3 linked regions of the Homo sapiens genome follow. The protein of the gene in region 3 purifies or fractionates together with the protein of the main gene of each other region. This does not show direct contact. Each region holds a gene or a part of one and is shown on either strand. Other genes may lie near its edges. The genes, in order: MID1, ACTR3 and RASGRP3.

Region 1 (3,657 bases), on a different chromosome or scaffold from region 3:
TAGTAGAGATGGGGTTTTACCATGTTGGCCAAGCTGGTCTTGAACTCCTGACCTCAGGCAATCGAGCTGCCTTGGCCTCTCAAAGTGCAGGCATTACAGGCATGAGCCACCAGCCCAGCCTAAGCTTTTCTTTGATATGTACAGAAATAGATTTCTAAAACAAAAGCCAGCTAACTATAGCTCAAGGGCCAAATCTGGCTGCCTGATTTTGTAAATAAAGTTTTATTAGCATATAGCCACACCCATTCATTTACCTATTGTCCTGTCCGTGGCTGCCCCCTCACTATAGCAGAAGAGTTGAATAGTCACAAAAGAGACCACATGGCCTGGCCTGCATAGCCAAAAATATTTACTGTCAGGCCCTTTGCAGAAAAAGTATGCTGGTCCGTGACCTAAAAAGAAAGGATTTTAGAGGTGCTGGTGTTGTGTTGTGTTTGTATCCAAAAGGCAACTGGAAATCCTTTGGCCTACCCACATGTGACAACACACACTGTCCTATACTCACTGGGTCAGTTTCTCGCCCAGCATCGTGTATTGCCACAGTTGAATTTACTAGACCTTTTCCTGTGATTGAGAGCTGTATACTGGGCAGAAGGAACCTGCCAACTGCAACAGTGACTGTGGAGTTTGGACACCATGGCATTTGTATCAGGTTGCAATGCATTTCCTGCCTTTAAACGCCTTGTACCCAATGCAGTGTTGAATGACAGGCAGTACTCCAAACCAATATTGAATTGTCAAAGAAGAAGTAACAACTATGACAAAATGTCCAGGTGTGACTCTGCCAAGATTTTTTTAATACTTAAATCTTTAAGACACAAATGTGAGTAATGAAATAGAGAAGGCCTTATTATATATAAATAATTTCATGAGTAGAAAACCCAGGCATTGCTATCACATTTTTTCCTAATTTTGTGGCCTGAAAATTGTATTCTCATCCTAAATTCCTAAGAGTAATGCTTTAATTTTTAATAATCTCAGAATAATATAAACCTCTAGAATATTCTATATGTTAAGACCCAAGATCTTGATTTGTTTGGTTTCTGGTCTGAAGTCTATTGAGCATGAATGCATCTTATGCTGGATAGAACACTGCAGTGGTTGAAAATGGAGTCTTCATTCATTCCTCCTTTTCAGGATGCTATCCAGCCAGTATGTACCTGTGCTGCTTGTATACACCTGGAATCCGTGAAGCTAGCTCACCCTATGTTTTCTGGCTAAGCCTTATCCATGCTGTTGTTGAATAGTTGGCATGCCACCACTGGATCCCTATCTTAGAACTGGTAGACTGAAAGCTTATGAAGACAGGAACATGTTCTTTTTCACTCTTACTGTGTACTGTACTATACACAGAGTTGCTGCTCTCTATTGTCTTTTGAATATTATGAAAACTTTGCAAGCAAATGTCTTTGAAAGTTGCTTATAATGTTTAAATTACTATTAAAATATAAGATACCACTTTGTGATAGGAGGCATGACTCAGGGAGGGCTGGCTTGTTCCTGTCTTTTAAACCTGATTTTGAAAATATGCTATTGGTTATGATAAAATAAACAATCCTCTTCCTCTTCCTTTTTCTGTTTTGTGAATTTGTTTTCAGGCCAACCATTTAAACTGGATCCCAAATCTGCTCATCGAAAACTGAAGGTGTCCCATGATAACTTGACAGTAGAACGTGATGAGTCATCATCCAAGAAGAGTCACACACCTGAACGCTTCACCAGCCAGGGGAGCTATGGAGTAGCTGGAAATGTGTTTATTGATAGTGGCCGGCATTATTGGGAAGTGGTCATAAGTGGAAGCACATGGTAAGCAACTTATTTCTATTGTCCTGCAGTTATAAAAAGGCACATCTCATTCTGTACTTAGAGAGTCAACCCATACTGTAATGCATCTTAAAGAATAAAATGCAGAAAAGTTGTATTAGTCAGCTCTTGCTAGGATAATACTGCATAACAAACACCCCCAAACTCAGCAGATTCAAACAACAACCATATATTACTAATACCCACACCTGTGGGTTCTCTGTTCAAGATTATAGAGCTCTGATCATTGGATGAGCTATACCATGTTAACACTGCTCTTTCATGCCATGAAACATGGGTTGGCAAACCACAGCCCATGAGCCAAACCTGGCCTGCTACCTGGTTTTGTAAATAAAGTTTTATGGGAATACAGCCAGGTCCATTTTTTTACATATAGTCCATGGCTGCCTTTCAGCCACAACAGCAGAATCGAGTAGTTAAGAGAGAATCATATGGTCTACGAAGCCAAAAATATTTACTTACTTTCTGGTCCTTTCCAGAAAAAGTTTGCCATTCCCTACTTTTAAACATCACTCTTCATCATTACACAAAACTAATTTCTGTTGCCTTGTATGTTTTATGGTTCTAGACTGGACCAATTAGTGCAAATAGCTAAGGGTTGAATGGTGGGGGTGAAGCAGTGATCATAGGCTGGGAATAATTTCAAAAGGCCTGTTAGATCCAGCCCAGTGACTTTAGCCCACTGAGTTCTCTAAGAATAAGGGCAAAGGTCAGGACACAATTACATTGGAATTAGTTAACCTCACAAAGTTAACCTTGCCTAATCCACAGCCACAACTGCACCCCTTTGACCGTCTGTCTCACAAATGCCTGCTTGCTATTGATCAAAAAGGGAGCTATTTTATTTTTATTTAACAAGCCCTCATATGGTACAAGTATGTGCCAGGCACTGGTCTAAGCATTTTACAGATGTCAACTCATTTATTCAGCCTTACAGCCCTACAAAGGTAGGTGCTAATATTATCCACTTTACTGATGAGGTGACTGAGGTATATGCTGAAGATCACAGGGTTACAAAGCTCACAGGTGGCAGAGTCAGTAAGTCTGCAGTCAAGGGTCAGGCTCTTAACCAGCAGTCCACAAACATTATCTGTAAAGGGCCAGAGATTCAATATTTCTGGTTTTGCATGCCAAATGATTTTTGTCACTAATACTCGACTCTTCTGTTGTAGTGGGAAAGCAGCCACAGACAACACCTACACAAATGGACATGGCTGCGTTCCAATAAAACTTCATTTATAAAAACAGGCAGAGGGCCAGAGTTGGCCCCTGGGTAGTAGTTTGCTGTTCCCCGCTCTTAACCACCATGGTATGCTGCTATTCACAAAAGGGTGGTATATTTTTGAAATGCTATAATTACTCTCTAGGGTTTATGACAGTGTACGTAATGAGTGATAGCTGAATCCTTGCTTTAAAAAATAAAATCAACATTCAAAATTGCATAGCCTGAAGATGGTGAGTATAACAGTGTTTCTTTCAATATAAGCATGATAAAACACTTATTTATATATAAAAAAACCTTTCAATTCAAACCTATGCAAATAATGTGACATGGCTGAGTCCTTTATATTGTAGGTAGAAATTAGCCAAAAATCTAAGAAGTGAATTGTAAGCTTCCCATCTCTCCCAATAATGGTACATACTATATTGGCTGAGCGAGTAGGTTTTCCTTTGTTGCTATCCTCATAATTCTCTTTGCCTAGAAGAGTTTTCTGTTCCAACATCCTGCCAGAGGATGGAGGACAAATCCTTCACCCCACTAGGCTCTGGGCTAGATTGGCATTTGCAATTTTTAGCTGCAGTGGGGCAAAATTAAAGCACAAAGGAAAACAC
Region 2 (3,657 bases), about 80 Mb from region 3:
ATGAAAGCCCTTGAAATACCCAAACACCACTAACTTACTTTTTTAACACTTCTCTTTTCCTGACTAAATATCTCCACTTCCCATAATATTACTTCTAAATTAACAATTCAGGAGAGAAGTATAACATGCTTTGACATTATGTTTAAACCTTTGCAGAAAAAAAAAAAAAGTACGTATTTTAGGCAGCAAATTAAACTAGGTTAAAATGTAAGAATCAAACTTAGAAAGTATGAACTTGCTTACCTGCACAGCAATGTACAAGCCTGGAACATTGAAGGACTCAAACATTATTTCAGCAGTATATTCCCTGTTTTCTGGAGTATTCAATGGAGGTTCAGTCTATTGAAATAAATAACATTTTAAATAGATAATATCAGATTATTTTGATAACTTTCTTGACAATTTTTAAATGAGAAGTAATTTATTTCAAACATTTTATTTAAAATGCATTAAATTTACAAGTAGAAAGACAGACACAGAGATCAAAGGAAAACTATAGAGAATTCAAACATCCATACATATATGAAAACAGTATGGTAATTCACATTTTAAAAAAAAAATACCCTGAATGCCTATATCATACCACTTATACAGATTAAACATTAAAAAGAAATGAAGCAGGGAGAGAGAGGGTTGGAGGTAGGGAAAAGGTGGTCCAGTCAAATCATCCTTTAAATATGGTAATGACAAACCTCCAGAAAAAACATCAATGGTATTTGCCAGTGGGAGAGCCCTCATCTAAGTAATGCTTTTAGATGAATGTCCCCGAAGTATATAGGATTACAGTAAACAAGCCGAGATTCTACAGATCTAATGGTACAGCTTTCTGAAAAATGTTATATTAATTTACCTGTTAAGAGCATAGAATCAAGATGTTTGCAGAGCACTCTTCTGTTTATGTGACTGTATACATCACTTAGAAACCTCACAGGTTAAGTCTGGGACAGAACACACTCTAAAGAGGCAAGGAAGGACTCAGAGATCTGGCAGTCTTGGACTTCATATTTCACCTATGCCTCATGATCACTTAAACTGTTTCAATTTTTAAAGATTAACACTGGGTAAGACCTCTGATTCTTGTGAGTCTGACTGGCAATCTAATAGGTATCTCAAATACTTAAATGTAAAAGAAAAATTTTTAAATTTAAAAAAGACACAGAATTCTCTTTTTGACCTTAAGGTAGGAATAACTCCTTAAATTTCTGAAGTACAAATCACAAAGGGAAAAAGTGATAAAACTTGAATCCATTAAAAATTAAATATTTTTAAAATTATTATTTCAAAAGAAATATAAAGCAAAACAACTAAGTATACTGTTACCTTACATAAAACCTTTATAAGCTAAACTCCCTGTGGTGTTTAAACTTCTTTAGAAGAGTTCTGGAGCTATGTTTAAAAGTCTGGAGATAATTTACTGATGAATACATACAAAATTAAGTAAACTAAAAACCAAGGCAGTGAAATTATAAACTCCAAGAAAAAAAATCTACATAAAAGATAATCAGAGGACCCCACAAAGGAAAATATACAAATAGCTAATAATAACAATCGTACATGAAAGACTGCTCAACATAATTATCAGAAAATGAAAATTAAAATTAAAAGCAAATGAAAAATCGTACACACCCACCAGAACGGCTAAAATTTTAAAGACTGACAAGCTAGCAGCGCAGTGGCTCACATCTATAATCCCAGCACTTTGGGAGGCCGAGGTGGGCAGATTACTTGAGACTAGAAGTTCAAGACCAGCCTGGCCAACATGGCAAAATCCTGTCTCTACTAAAATTACAAAAGTTAGCCAGGTGTGGTGGTGCATGCCTGTAATCCCAGCTACTCAGGAGGCTGAGGCACAAGAATCCCTTAAACCTGGGAGGCGGGGAGGTTTCAGTGAGCCAAGATCACACCACTGCACTCCAGCCTGGGTGACAGAGCAAGACTGTCTCAAAAAAAAAGTATAAAAGATTGATAAGCCAAATCTTGAATAGAGCAAGCAGATTACTAATGCATCACTGGGGGGTGTGCAAAAAGGTTCACCATCTTGGGAAAAGTTCCCATGAGTTTCCCTAAAAAACCAATCAGGTACCTACCCTATGACGCTGCAATTCCATACTTACGTATTTAGACAAGAGAAATGAAAACATATGTCCACAAAAAGTCTTGTAGAAGAAGGTTCACAATGGTCAAATTATTTTATTATAACCAAAAACTAGAACTAAGCCAGGCATGGTGGCAGCACTTTGAGAGGCCATGGCGGGAGGATCACTTGGAGCCCAGGAGTTCAAGACCAGCCTGGGTGACAAAGTGAGACTCCATCTCTAAACCAGAACACATTACCCAGGTGTGGTGGCCCGGGCCTGTGTGTCCTAGCTACTCAGGAATCTGAGCTGGGAGAACTGTTTGAGCTGGGAGGTCAACACTGCAATGAGCCATGATTGATCCACTGCATTCCAGCCTGAGCAACAGAGCAAAACCCTGTCTTAAAAAAACAAAAACAAAAACAAAAAAAAAACAAAAATAGCCCAGGTATTCATCAACAGGAAAATGGATAAAGTGAGGCAAATTTATACAATGGAATACTACCCAGCAACAAAAAGCAACAAATCACCAGTATATGCAACATAATTCAATCTCCAGATTATGCTAAGTAAAAGTGTTTCACCAAAATGCACATATTGCATGATTCCATTATTTGACACTCAAACATGGGCAAAGCTAATCTCAGATGAAAAAGAAACAGTGGTTGTCACTAGGGCACGGGGGCAGAGATTAATTACAAAAGGGCATGAGAAAACTTTCCACGCTGATAGTAATTTCTCTATATCTTGGTAAGAGTTTAGGTTACACAGATGTATGTAACTGACAAAGATTGGACAAATCACATCATGCATCCTGCAGGTCAAATACAGCCCACCACCTGTTTTGGTAAAAAAAAAAAATTTATTGGAACACAGACATACCTATGAATTTAAGTATTGTCTATGGCTGCTAACATGCTACAACAGCACAGCTGAGTAGCTGTGACAGGGACCATTGTATAAAAAGTTCTCATTAAGTTTCCTCAGGGACTATAACCCCTGCAAAGCCAAAAATATTTGCTATCTGCTCCCTTAGAAAGTTTGCCAAACCCTGGTCAAAATCCACTGAATGGTGCAGACCGGTGATTTTATGATATGTAAATTTTATATGAAAAGAATAACCATACACAAATGATAGCTCTAGTTGATGAAATACGTGCTAAAGTATTTAGGGGTCAAATGACTCCCATTTGCAACTCACTTTGAAGTGATTTAAAAACTAAAATGAAGTGAAAGATGGATAGACGTCATGAAGCAATTATAGCCAAATGTTAAGGTTAATCATCGAATCTAGATTGTGGGTGTATGAGTGTCCATAGTATGGTTCTTTCAACTTTATAGTCCATCACAATCACCGAAAGACACAGAATATTGATTTAACCAAAAATTGTGATGTAACTACAATGCGAGGAGTGGGAAAGGATAGGTATTTTGTGTTGAGGGAGAGAAAAGGTAAAAAGGGAAATTCTCATTTTTCCTATTAGGAAGTTGGTAAATAATGTATAATATTCTTAAAGACAGAAGAAATAAAAAAAAAATGTTAAATAAAAGAAACATGTTAAAAGATTACTAGCAGGGCAAA
Region 3 (3,657 bases):
TTCTTTGGTAAACAATTACATGGTCTAGGAACAGTTTGTGAGAAGGGCGAGAAACCACACTCCTATTCCAATGCAGCAGACCTAGGGGATTTAGGCTCTCAGAAATTAAGAGGAGTTATTGGTTTCATTTTCCACAGCCATACAAGGAAAACAGTTAATTCAGTATTGCAGCTGAGTTTCAGATGCTACAGTGTTATAAACCCAAACAGGGAAGTTGCACCTCTACTTTTGTTTAAGGAAGGGTGAGTGAATTTTGTTATGCCTCTTCTTCCCACAAAGCAGCAGCCAGTGGGAAATGTTCTCTTCTATACACCGTTGTGTCTAAAAGTTCTAGGATGCAGAGACCAGCTAAACATGTGTGCCACAAATGCCAAAAAACTATGAGTGGTAGGTGAACTTCTTTTGTCTAAGCCACATCATTCCTAAATACAGCATGCAGTTCATTTATTGAGTTCCCAAATATGCCAGGAACTGTGAGAGGTGCTAGGCATATGATATGTAAGGCAGATAAACAGATAAAAATCGAATAAAGAGTGATACCTCCTATAGTTAAGGAAAATATAAAGTGCCAGGGTGATGTGACAGATGCATGACTGCTATGGAGGGGGAGAGAGAATGCTCCAGAAAGACAGGCTTTTGAAATTGAACTTGCCACATGGATGGGTTGGGATGGGATTCTCCAAGCAAGTCCAAAGGCCAGGAAGCAGAAGACAGCATTTCATGGGGTGGAAAGTATAAGAAGTTCAATATTTCTCAAAGGCTGGTAAAATGTGGGATAGGGTGATGGCAAAGAAGGTTGGAGACTGAGTCTTCAAGAACCTCGAATGCCAGACTGTAAACTACATCCTGGAGGTTTGGGAGGTTCATAATGGGAACAGGGGGATCACAGATAAGGTCCTTGCATTACTCCAGGCTTCAGCCAAAGCAGTGCAGTGAGGATAAAGAGGAGCAGATGACTGGAGGACATACAGAAGGATGTGATAAGTTGGATGAATGTGGTGAAGGAGAGTGAGGGCTGAGGCACAGTCTGGAGGAGCCTAAGAACTCCAGAAGTGGAGTCATATGGCAGAGACTGGGCCCCTCCGAACAAAGGTAGATTTCTTTGCCCCAAGATTTGCTGGTTATGGAAAATATTAATCAGGGCTCCTTTTCCCTTGTTCTATGAGATTTCCTCTCATCTATTGACTCTGAAACCAATTTTCCCCCAGAATGAATTGCTGGCACACATCTTCCTGTGTCTCCTGGAAAGAAAGGTGCAGAAGAATTATTGAGCCCAAACTTGGCTCCTTGGAACTCACCGTGAGCAGGTTGATCAAATCCATGTTGGGTTCTAAGTGGTGAGAGGCATTCTGCAGGGAGACTAGTTCACTCAGGGTAACGGAGAGCTGGTGCATTTTCACAATGTTCACTTTGTTCTCCTCTGTCCAGTCTGGGAAAATGACATGGACAGCTATCAAGTCTTTCAAGTGTACTCCAAGGATGGGGATTTTGAAGCCATCGCAGTCGGCAAAGGCCTTGCGGTAATTGCAGTAATTGCCGTTGGAGGAGACCAACTCTGTCATTTCATTCCAGTTCTGGGAACAGATGGAAAAGTAGAATTTTCAAACAACTTTCCCTCCTGCACACCCCCGGGCCCTGCAATGTGTGGCTAGGAAATTCCTCAGCTACTGAGAAAAGTATCACTTGCACCAATGTTGCTGCAGGGAAATATGAATCAGGAAAAAGAAAGTTAGAAAAAGTACTAGGCCTGGCTATGCATTGAGCAGCCTGTTCCATTTTGCTATAAAATGGAAATAGCCTACATGTCTGCCTACCTACTAGGGATGTTGGGATATTAAATGGCATCATGTATACTTAAGTGTTTGGAAATTTATGAAAATATTACTGTCCGCAAATTCAAGCATGTCGAATATTAAAATTGTTATTTGTTCCAAGAAAGTTGCATTCCAGATATTACTCGAGGTTAATTTGGGACAGTATGGGGTAGAGAAAGTTGCAATGCGGTGTGAGATAGCTGTGGTTCTATATTCTGCCTAACTAGAAGGGTGACCTTGAGCAAGTCACTTCACTTTTTTGGGCCTCAGTTTCTTTCTCTGTAAGTAAGAGAAGTTCCGATACATAATTTTAAAAGATGCACTGGTAGTTCTCCAAGCCTCTATAAACTTCTATCAGATTCTTATTCTTCACAACATTTAAAATTTGTTTTTGCTTTTTACTTGAGATCTGGTACAAAGCTAAAAGAAAATGAAACACTTATTACCTAATAAGTTCCATTACACTTGGAATGAGTACAGAGCTTGAGGTCAAACAACGGTACTTCTGTGGCTTACTTCCTGTTGTTTATATGGACAAGTTATCGTTGGTTGCTTCACAGCAACCAGACCTTTCTAGTAGACCCCAATTTTGATTAGTCTGCTCTCTCCAAAGCAGCCCTTGTGACTCAGACAGAGTCTGTTTCCATTTCCAGAACCAGGAATGGGTTTTGATTTATCATCAGAGTAATTGCATCCTTCTAGTTTGTGATTAGTTCAGGAACTCAGGGTTAAGCCAATCAGTACATTGTATTACTCTGGCAACTGTTATTGGTCCAGGGATGGACCTAAGACCTGAGTTGGCTCAAAAGGTCTTTAATTCTATGGGTGAAGAGTTGAAGTGAGTAGTCTTCCCTATCTTCAACTTTCATGAACAAGGGAACGTAATTTTTCGGTTGCTACATACAGCCCAATTAGGAGAGAAACAGTTTGATGAAACAAACAAAAAAACAAAACTCTCCGATATTCAGAGGCGGGCGGAGCACCTGAGTCAGAGGTCTGATCAGACCGTGCCTGCTCTGTCTCTGGACTTCCAGGTATGTCCCCCAGGCTGGAGTGCAGTGGTATGATCCTGGCTCACTGCAGCCTCAAACTCCTGGGCTCAAGTGATCATTCCACCTCAGCCTCCCAAATAGCTGGGACTACAGGCACACACTGCCACACCTGGCTAGTTTTTTTTTTTTTTTTTTTTTTTTTTTTGTAGAGACAGGATCTAGCTATGTTACCCAGGCTGGTGTCGAACTCCTGGCTTCAAGCAATCCTCCCACCTCCACCTCCCAAAGTGCTGAGATTACAGGTGTGAGCCACCACGCCTGATGGACGATACATTTGCTTATTGTTTAATTGCTGTAGAAGTTTTTTTCTTTTTCTTTTAAACTCACAGCTAAAAGTGTCCTTATTGAAGTAGCAAAGTGCACTCTTATATGAGAATCTTTTCATAAGGATGAAATGCTCCTTTTTGCTCAAGAAGAAAAACAACTATCATGTCATGAAAATAAATGTGGCAGAAACGCTCAGTTTGGAAAATGATCACTGTTTCTAATATATATATATATATTCATGACAATTCAGTTATAAATCTGAGGATTTCTATACAAGGCCTATGTCTTCCCCTTTCTATCTTCTGATGTGCCCAACACAGTGTTATGAATAGTCATTCAATGACTTTATTTCAGGAGGTAGGGTAGGAACTATTTCTGTCTTATTTACCTTGTGTATCACAATGCCTATCACATAGTAGGACCAAATAGATACCTGTTGAATATTTACCACTACAATATGTTGAGTTTTTTTTTTTTTTTTTGGTTTTTTTTTTTTTGAGATGGAGTCTCGCTCTATCGCCCAG

The links.
Region 1: the proteins of RASGRP3 (region 3) and MID1 purify together in Homo sapiens (affinity purification with western blotting; one study listed by BioGRID). This does not show direct contact.
Region 2: the proteins of RASGRP3 (region 3) and ACTR3 purify together in Homo sapiens (affinity purification with western blotting; one study listed by BioGRID). This does not show direct contact.

What each region holds. Positions count from the first base shown.
Region 1 is NC_000023.11:10,453,019-10,456,675, reverse strand, and holds part of MID1 (E3 ubiquitin-protein ligase Midline-1), read left to right. Parts: intron 1-1,598; coding exon 1,599-1,806; intron 1,807-3,657. UniProt on the Homo sapiens protein: Has E3 ubiquitin ligase activity towards IGBP1, promoting its monoubiquitination, which results in deprotection of the catalytic subunit of protein phosphatase PP2A, and its subsequent degradation by polyubiquitination.
Region 2 is NC_000002.12:113,927,983-113,931,639, reverse strand, and holds part of ACTR3 (actin-related protein 3), read right to left. Parts: intron 340-3,657; coding exon 244-339; intron 1-243. UniProt on the Homo sapiens protein: ATP-binding component of the Arp2/3 complex, a multiprotein complex that mediates actin polymerization upon stimulation by nucleation-promoting factor (NPF).
Region 3 is NC_000002.12:33,525,054-33,528,710, reverse strand, and holds part of RASGRP3 (ras guanyl-releasing protein 3), read right to left. Parts: intron 1,575-3,657; coding exon 1,299-1,574; intron 1-1,298. UniProt on the Homo sapiens protein: Guanine nucleotide exchange factor (GEF) for Ras and Rap1.